2 separate regions of the Homo sapiens genome follow, and region 2 is linked to region 1. A link means that fine-mapping ties the variant in region 1 to the expression of a gene that starts in the linked region. Tissue or cell type: lymphoblastoid cells. Region 1 holds a variant in brackets; the other region holds the start of a gene. All regions are shown on one strand. Distances are between the middles of the regions.

Region 1 (4,246 bases):
TTGGTCAACTCTTCAAGGCAAGAGTTAAAGAACTTTAAAAGGAAATATTCTTGTCAACAAAAATCGGGTTTAAATGTATGATAAGGTACTCATACTTATTTCATACACATTTATACACTTATTCAGTGTGTGTGGCTTGTTTTAAGATCAAAATTCATATGGGTTTGAATGTAGTCACCATTTCAACATCTCAGTCCCTGCAGCTGATGCTGATATTGATGTTTCCCGTTAAGAGAAAAATCCCGTTTTTTAGGCTGACACAGGAAATACCACTCAGCACTGGAATACATATGAAAATCAGGAAATTTTCAAAGATGTAATGCAGGAAATCAACCAGGGAATATTCAAATTGTCACAATGTGCTTAATATTTTAAACATTTCTTCCTCTTTTAAACAAATGCTGAGCAAAGCTTCCTGTGTTTCAAAAGCAACACTGATGGACTCTCAAAATGGCAAGTCCCACATATTTACCATCTCTTCTCTTCACCCTGAATTTATTTTCCTGACTCAAGGTAGTTTCCAGGGCTTAAAAGATGGCCTATGTGGCACTTAAATGTATTTATGTTTAAACTCCTGTCTTCATGGAGTAGATAAGAAGTAAAATCAGCCATTGTCATGGACAACTTGCTCCTCTGAGTTCTTAACTGTTTTGGGGGGAAAGTGAAATATCAAGGAGTAAGAAACCTGTTTTCAGTTCTTGAGAGACTTACAGGCCAAGTGAGAAGAGGTGATATAATGCTAGGAACATAAACACAAGGCACTGTTATCTGTGTTTCTTTACCTCTAAAATGTGGGAATATTACTTACTTGGTGATAAGATTAGAAAAAATGATTGTTGCAAAGCACTCAGGCACATATAAGTGCTGTATTAAAGATCATTATCATTGAAGAGGAATTCCCAGATGAGTAATTTTAAAAGATGAAGGTGAGCTCAGATACTGGGGAGAAGCAGCTGTCAAGAACAGATGAGACAGTCTGAGGCAGCCCCGGAAAAGTTTCTTGGACAAAGCAGGACTTATACTGGGCCTTGAAAATTTAGAAAGACCAGCTAAAAGGCAAAGAAAGTCTCTGTTTACTTCCAAAAATGGAGATTGGCAGGACTATCTGAGGTGATGACACATTCCTTGAAACTCCTTTCTTGGGTGATCCTGACAGACTGATTTCCCATATCTTTTAAACCTGTTTTTCCAACTAAGTGCAAACATTAGAGATGAGCTCATTTACAATTTAGTCCTAACCCAAATTTGCCCCAGTTCAAACTCCTCCAGAGGACAACCTGAGAGCACTCACTAGCCAATACTTTCTGAAAAACCTCTACAACAGGGCAACACTCTGAAGACCCTTGGAGATCAGTGGGGAATGGGTTTGAGAGCAAACTGAAGCCACCTTTCAACATAAGTCAAAGTTAACCAGGCAATTCCTTTCTAGTCACCATGGACAAGTGAAAGCCCCACACCCCTTGAGTCAATGGGAAGTCATTTCTTAACTCCCTTTTGAGAAATGCTGCTGGTGATTCAGCACTACATCCTGGCTCACTGGGACACTGTAAGTGAAATTTCCTTTAACAGCCACCCCACCACCTTGTGAAAGGTGAGTTTCCCAGGCTAGAATTACTCATGAGCACTCTTGCTACGAGAGGAGAGAGGGTCAGAGGGTCAGAGGTTCAAGGGAAGTCTTTCCTTCACCAACATCGGAGAGACTCCAGAAGCCTCTTTGAGTCAGTACTGTATAATTTACTATCCAAACTGGGAACGTTTTGAGAATAAAATGTGGCACCACTAATAATTGTGCAGCAACAACAGATGGAAATGGGGGAATTTCCAGTCAAATCAGAACACAGGATTATTCTTTTTTCTCTTTTCTTTTTTTTTTTTTTTTTTTTTTTTTGAGACGGAGTTTCACTCTGTCACCCAGGCTGGAGTGCAGTTGCACGATCTCGGCTCACTGCAACCTCCACCCTCCGGGTTCAAATGATTCTCCTTCCTCAGCCTCCTGAGTAGCTGGGACTACAGGCGCCTGCCACCGTGCCCAGCTAATTTTTTGTATTTTTAGTAGAGATAGGGTTTCACCATCTTGGCCAAGCTGGTCTTGAACTCCTGACCTCGTGATCCACCCGCCTCGGCCTCCCAAAGTGCTGGGATTACAGGCATGAGCCACCGCGCCTGGCCTTTCTT[G/GT]TTTTTTTTTTGAGATGGAGTCTTGCTCTGTCACCCCAGGCTGGAGTGCAGTGGCACGATCTTGGCTCACTGCAGCCTCAGCCTCCTGGGTTCGAGCAATTCTCTTGCCTCAGTCTCCTGATTAGCTGGGATTACAGGCACCCACCACCACGCCTGGCTAATTTTTGTATTTTTAGTAGAGATGGGGTTTCACCATGTTGGCCAGCTGGTCTTGAACTCCTGACCTCAAGTGATCAGCCCACTTCAGCCTCCCAAAGTGCTGGGACTACAGGCGTGAGCCACCGCGCCTGGCCAGAACACAGGATTATTCTGTCTTTAGGTTGTGAGGTCTCATCTTCTAAAAATAAAGACATCCATTTGTCAAGGATTTACTAAGTGTATACTATGTGACATTGTGATATATGCTAGAGATAGTATATTAGCTGTTTTTGCCCCAGAGACCTCAGACTAGTAGGGGTAACCAACACACACACACTGGCATTTATAAAGCACTGTGGAGGTCAGGGACCCTGGGGAACACCTAACACACCTTGCAGAGTCAGAGATAGCATCCCGGAGGAGATACCGACCTATCTATTAATATGTCTTCATTAGGCAATGAAGAAGGCTAACTGAATTCTGGGCTTAAAAATAGCATGTAGTGTCATTGAAAAACAAAAATATCTAATATTTATGGACCAGTTACTGTGTCCTGGCCATTCTACATGTAATAACTCATTTAGCCCATACTTCTAGGACCTCCATCTTGCAGATAAGGAAATAGTAAGTAATTTCCAAGATATACCAGTATTAAAACACTAAAAGCATCTGTGTCCTTTTCTCTGAATCTTGTTTTGACCAAGAGTACATGGAAGTGATGCTATGAGACTTCTGAGGCCAGGTTACAAGAGACCAAACAGCTTCTACCTGGTTTTCTGGAACATATGTGTTGGATCTCTGAGATCCCAATAAAATGCCCACCTACCTGGAAATCACCATGCTGGAGTGGTGACCTGAAGGCACTCCAGTTGACAATCCCTGCTGAGTCCATCTTTCAGCCATTGCGGTCCAGGAACCAGGCAAGTGAGAAACCATCATAAAACAGATCCTCCAGACCAGCATAGATGAGCTGTCCCCACTGGCCTTTCTCTGAATCTGGACCCACTGAATTTGTAGCCTTAAATATTTCTTGTTTTATACCACTGTTTTAGTGGTTTGCTTCATAGCAATAGTAGTAACCAAGTCACAAAAACACAGGCCTAAGCAGGCAATGAAAAAGGATTCAAATCCAGAAAATCTGACATTGAAAACCATTCCTTTAGCTCTTGTTTCCCAAGAAACATAGCTTCTTTGTAGACATACCGGTATCTGTGGTTGCTGACATAGGCAGTTCAGTGCAGAGAGTGATTTGAGATGGATTGGGGGAGAAAACAAGCATCCATCAAGTTATAGAAGTCTTTATAAACCACATTAAGGAGTGTGGAGCCATAGGAAGCCATTGAGAAATTTTAGAGCAGTAGAATGTTGCACTCAGCTTCATGTTTTAGAGGGATTTCTTTGGTGGAAGAAGATCTTGAGGCAGGCAAGATTGGAGGCATTTAGGCAAGTATTAAAGCAATTCAAGGGAGAAGAAAGCAACAGCAGTGACAAAACAGAGGAGAACAAAGGGGGAAAATCAAGAAAGAAATAGCAGCTAGACAGAGGACAATTGTTGAATGTTGCTTTCTATCTAGTTCCAAAAAATACTCTATAATCATTCAGTTACCAAATCTGAAGCTAGAGAAAATTTAGAGAGGTACAGATGATTAGGAAAGACCTCCAGAGATGCACCGTAGTCAATATTCAGGACCACTCTTGCCCTGTAGACTGAAAAGTTCAGCTACACCCTTTCCTCCCTTTTCCTTCCTTTCCCTTCCCTTGCAGATGGTAGAAAGAGGACAAAGTATGAAAAAAGATTAATTATATATAGTCATTTTGAGGAAATATAACTATATTGTCAATAATGAGAGCCAGGTTTCTCACTGTCAAAGAAAGTGAAAGAAAAGTCTGGAAATAAACCTGAAATTATGAACTGGAATTGCAAGTATTGGAA
Region 2 (4,246 bases), 110 kb after region 1:
GAAACCAATTACTCATAAAGGGTGCTTCCTCTAGACCTTCTTATTGTCCTGAATTCCTATTTCATTAGCAAAAGTACATTTACATGAAATATATATATATATATATATATATATATTTCATATATATGAATCTGGCATAAATATGGATGCATACTTCCCATTATTAAAATTAGAATTCTTTAAACAAAACAAAATTTTCCTCTATTTTCAATTCTTGTCACTTCTGCCATTTGCTGCTTGAAGTCCTTAAAAAATATTATGTCTTCTGAATGCTTTCTAAGACTATAGAGAATATTGGTTGAATGAGGTTTAGAGTTGGCTAAAGGAGGGCTTTTTTGACCAGAAGTTGATTCTCTGAAGTTTTTTGTGTGTCTTTAACTTGTTTTTTTCCACTGATTAATCTTTCATAGTATGTAGTTATAATGGTAACCATCACGTACATCTGACCTACAATAAAGAAGAAAATGGACAGAAAAAAGATTATTAACTTTTCTTCCTTTTTTGTTCTTCTGTAGGTCTCATTCCTGTCAGTTAGACTTGAGGTCATGCTATTTCCTGTTGGGGTCACGAGGATGAATTAGTGATTAGACACTTAGGTGCTGGACTCAAAGGGACCTGGCTCCATCACATGCAAACTTTTTGTAAAAGAAGGTACATTGTTTTATAATGTGCGTTTTTGGTTGAATATTAAACTAAAACTTGAGAGCAATCTAGCTCAGGTAGACACTGGTGTCCTGAAATCATTTGCAATACATTTAAACTAAGATATACTAGATAAAGATATTAAAACAAAAGAAAAGGTTTAGATTTTATTCCATATTTCATTTATATTTTTACCAAACACCTATTGAATATCTAATATGTTCTAGGGAATGGACTTGGATCTAGAAACTTAAGAGTGAATGTGCAAATGCCTAGAATCTGTTCTGGTAAGAAATTCACTTCAGTAAAAAACAATACTAATATTATCAATAATAATCCATAATGTGATTTTTTAAAGCCAACTCATTTAATCTATTATATCTATATAATAGATTAGATTATAATCTAGACTGTATAATCTATAGTCTAGATTATAGACATTTAATAAAAACAAATTGAATTTTGTAAAAAAAGTACTTAATATACCTAGTAAAGTTTTATATGCCAAGTTTGTATTTTAATAATATTTTTATTTTAATAAATATCAGGAAGAAATAAACATAAAACATAGGAAGTGCATGTTCAGGTTATCTATTGTCATATTACAAACCACCTGAAAACTCAGTCGTATAAAACAACAATTATTTTTAAATTTTTGAACAGCTTTATATATAATTGACATATAATAAACTGCACATTTTAAAGTGCACACTTTGATAAGCATACATAGGTACACACCTGTGAAACCATCGCCAAAATCAAGATCATGACCGTATCCACAAATTTCATGATTCTGTAGGTCAAGGATTAGAGCAGCCATAAGCAGAGAGTTTGTCCCTGATACACGATGTTTTTGGCCACAGCTGTAGTTGTTTGGATAGCTGGGGGCTCCTGGGATGGCTAGAGTGGGATCATATGCCTGGAGTCTTCATTCTTCTCCATTGGATGTTTGCTGGGATGAGAAGGTCCAAGATAGTCCTTTGATAATGTGTCGTGGTGCCTGGGCTGGGATGGCTGAAACACAGGAGACCTAGCAGAAATTCTCTATACTCACCGCCATCTCCGGATAGTCAGACTTCTCACTCGGCAGCTGGCTTCCCCCAGGTCCGAAGTTCAAGAGACTTTCAAAAGACAGGAAGTGAAAGCTGCCAGTCTCTTTCAGCCTGAGCCCGAGACACTGGCACAGTTTTACTTCCACTATGCTTTATTGGTCAAAGCAGTCTCTGAGCCCACCCAGATTCTGGGAAAGAAGGACATTGACACCACCTCTTGATGAGATAATGTCAAAGAATTTTGACCATCTTTAAAGCACCACAACGCATGTTGGATATTCTATATTCCTGAGTGAAAGAAGACTTCAATTTGGTCACATGAACAAACTATTTCTGTGTTTTACAAGGGCAATAGTAGGGAAAGGAGGTGGTAGTAATATCAGAATTTCCATCAACTCTTCTGTCTTCGTTGCTGTTTATCAAGTAATGTTCTTCAAACAAACTGGAGTTGCTATGCCTTGATATGGTATAAATGAGTGTGTTTTGGATACAAATACACATGGTAAAGGTAATATGGTAAATACCATTGTTTATTTATATTATTTATATTATATTTATATTGTTTATTTATATTAATGGTATACTTTAGCCAAGTAAGTTTTTATCAAGATTCCAAAATATTATTGAGACATAATCAATTCAGTAAAAAACTATTTGAGATGGACACATCGGATTCTAGTGATGTTACTCCCCCAGGGTCTTACCCTATTGGGAATCTATTGTATAACTCACATATAACTGTACCTTTGGCCAGGCGTGTTGGCTCACGCCTGTAATCCCAGCACTTTGAGAGGCTGAGGTGGGTGGATCAATGGGTCAGGAGATCAAGACCATCCTGGCCAACATGGTGAAATCCCATCTTTACAAAAATTAGCTGGGTGTGGTGGCACACGCCTGTAATCCCAGCTACTCGGAAGGCTGAAGCAGGAGAATCGCTTGAACCCAGGAGGTGGAGATTACAGTGAGCCAAGATCGTGCCATTGCACTCCAGCCTGGTGACAGAACAAGACTTTGTCTAAAAAACAAACAAACAACTGTACCTTTATAAAAATTCCATCTTTTAAAAGTCTATAAATGGATCTGTTACATTTTAACAAACTACTAGAGGTAATTTCAAATAGATCACTTCAAATTTTCTGAATAAATATAATCTGTTGTGAGGATAGCATCTTGAAGAAATGTTATCAAGCCGTGGTAAAAATATATCTTTCCTTATATGTTCAACCACCATGTGAAATGTGTGAATCTAGCATAAAATGCAGTAAAAAAAAATTTTTTTTAAGTCAGTGAAATAAACTAAGTAAATTTTTCAAGAGAATGTTTTTATTGTGATCTTTTGAGTAGCACAAGGGAAACACAAAGTATAAATACGGTTTTTATACATGGAAAGGGGACACGTGACTCATTTAAGAGGAGCTAAATAATTATTAACAATTGTTTGTATTATTTAAATATTTGTTCAATGGCAGTGGCTACTACTTGTAAAGAAAGAGATACCCCATATCATCCTTTTGGATTCCACTTAACCATAAATAGTCATCTTGGTGGCCCAGTGGCCCTTGTTTCATAAATTTCTCACTGTACCACCATCCTAAAACATCTCTTCTGGCTAAAGCACACAGGAATGCAAAGAAGGAAGATAGACTCTTTATGAGTGCACATGTCCTTGCATACCTGTATTTCTATATCAGGGAGATCACAAAGAACCATTAAAAATGTAAGCCATTTGGAACACTAGAGCTAGAGGAGTGGCCAGATGGTAAAGATCTTGATCATATAGTACATCTGAAGGTGATGTATAGGGGCAGGAAGTATCTGCCACAGAACAGAGTTTAAGGCAGCGACATTCCTTGGGAGAGAAGTGGCAGCACTAAAAACAAGCAGTGAAAGCACCACATTTCCTTTGTTTTGGGTATCTTATACCTTTGGTTACTGAATGCTAAAGTCAAATCTCACGTCTGTTTCTTTAAGAAGCTCATGTCAAGATTTTTATTATTATTTTTTATTTTTTACAAGGTTATATCATTTCCATGGAGTTGGGGGATCACGTAACCAAGGTGAAAAGCAATTAAAATTAATTATTGTGATAGAGGTTAAGCTAGGTTAAAATACCTACCCAACCATCAACATTCCAGACTTCTAATGGAGATCTGTGTGTGCAGGGTGGTAAATAAGGGTTTGGCGTGTGGGGTATTAATTAATTAGCATCAGAAGAGAGAGAAGTCACACATGGTAGACAGTAAATATAGCTGGAGAAAAAAGACTCAAAAATATTTCTGTATTGCTGAGCCTTAAGTTCTAGAGTTTCAAACATGCTTGTTCAAAATGTAGCTTCTTTGTTCGTGGTCAACAAATTCCTCCCAGATGATGTCAGAAAGAGTGCCTTTATCTTTGGAACCCAGTGCAGGCCTAAAGTTTATTTCATATGGTATCAATACTTACTGAGAGTGTTTTATATATGATCCATTGTGCTAGGTTTTCAGGACACAGCCATGAAAAAGACAGGTTTCCTGCCCTTGAGAAGCACACAGGCAATAGGCAAGATTTTAAAC

Direction of the effects. Positions count from the first base shown, and alleles are read on the strand shown. Sizes are in standard deviations (SD) of each study's normalised expression.
For the expression in lymphoblastoid cells of the gene that starts at base 1,734 in region 2, allele G in region 1 goes with a lower level than allele GT (moderate effect, 0.40 SD a copy in GEUVADIS).

The links. PIP is the estimated chance that this variant, and not a neighbour inherited with it, causes the effect.
Region 2: it holds the start of MROCKI, and the variant in region 1 is the best candidate, but not a certain one, in a credible set for the expression of MROCKI in lymphoblastoid cells (GEUVADIS, PIP 0.55).

The regions. Positions count from the first base shown.
Region 1 is chr6:113,762,543-113,766,788 of GRCh38, forward strand. No RefSeq gene overlaps it. Among named protein-coding and RNA genes, the nearest start is that of MARCKS, 93 kb to the right of the region's middle. The variant G/GT (reference allele first, on the strand shown) is at 2,176.
Region 2 is chr6:113,871,614-113,875,859 of GRCh38, forward strand. MROCKI (MARCKS cis regulating lncRNA promoter of cytokines and inflammation) reads right to left here and starts at 1,734. Exons shown (of 3, transcript NR_038863.2): 1 at 1,381-1,734. It overlaps LOC124901382 (a long non-coding RNA gene), which reads left to right and starts at 1,792. Exons shown (of 3, transcript XR_007059716.1): 1 at 1,792-2,210.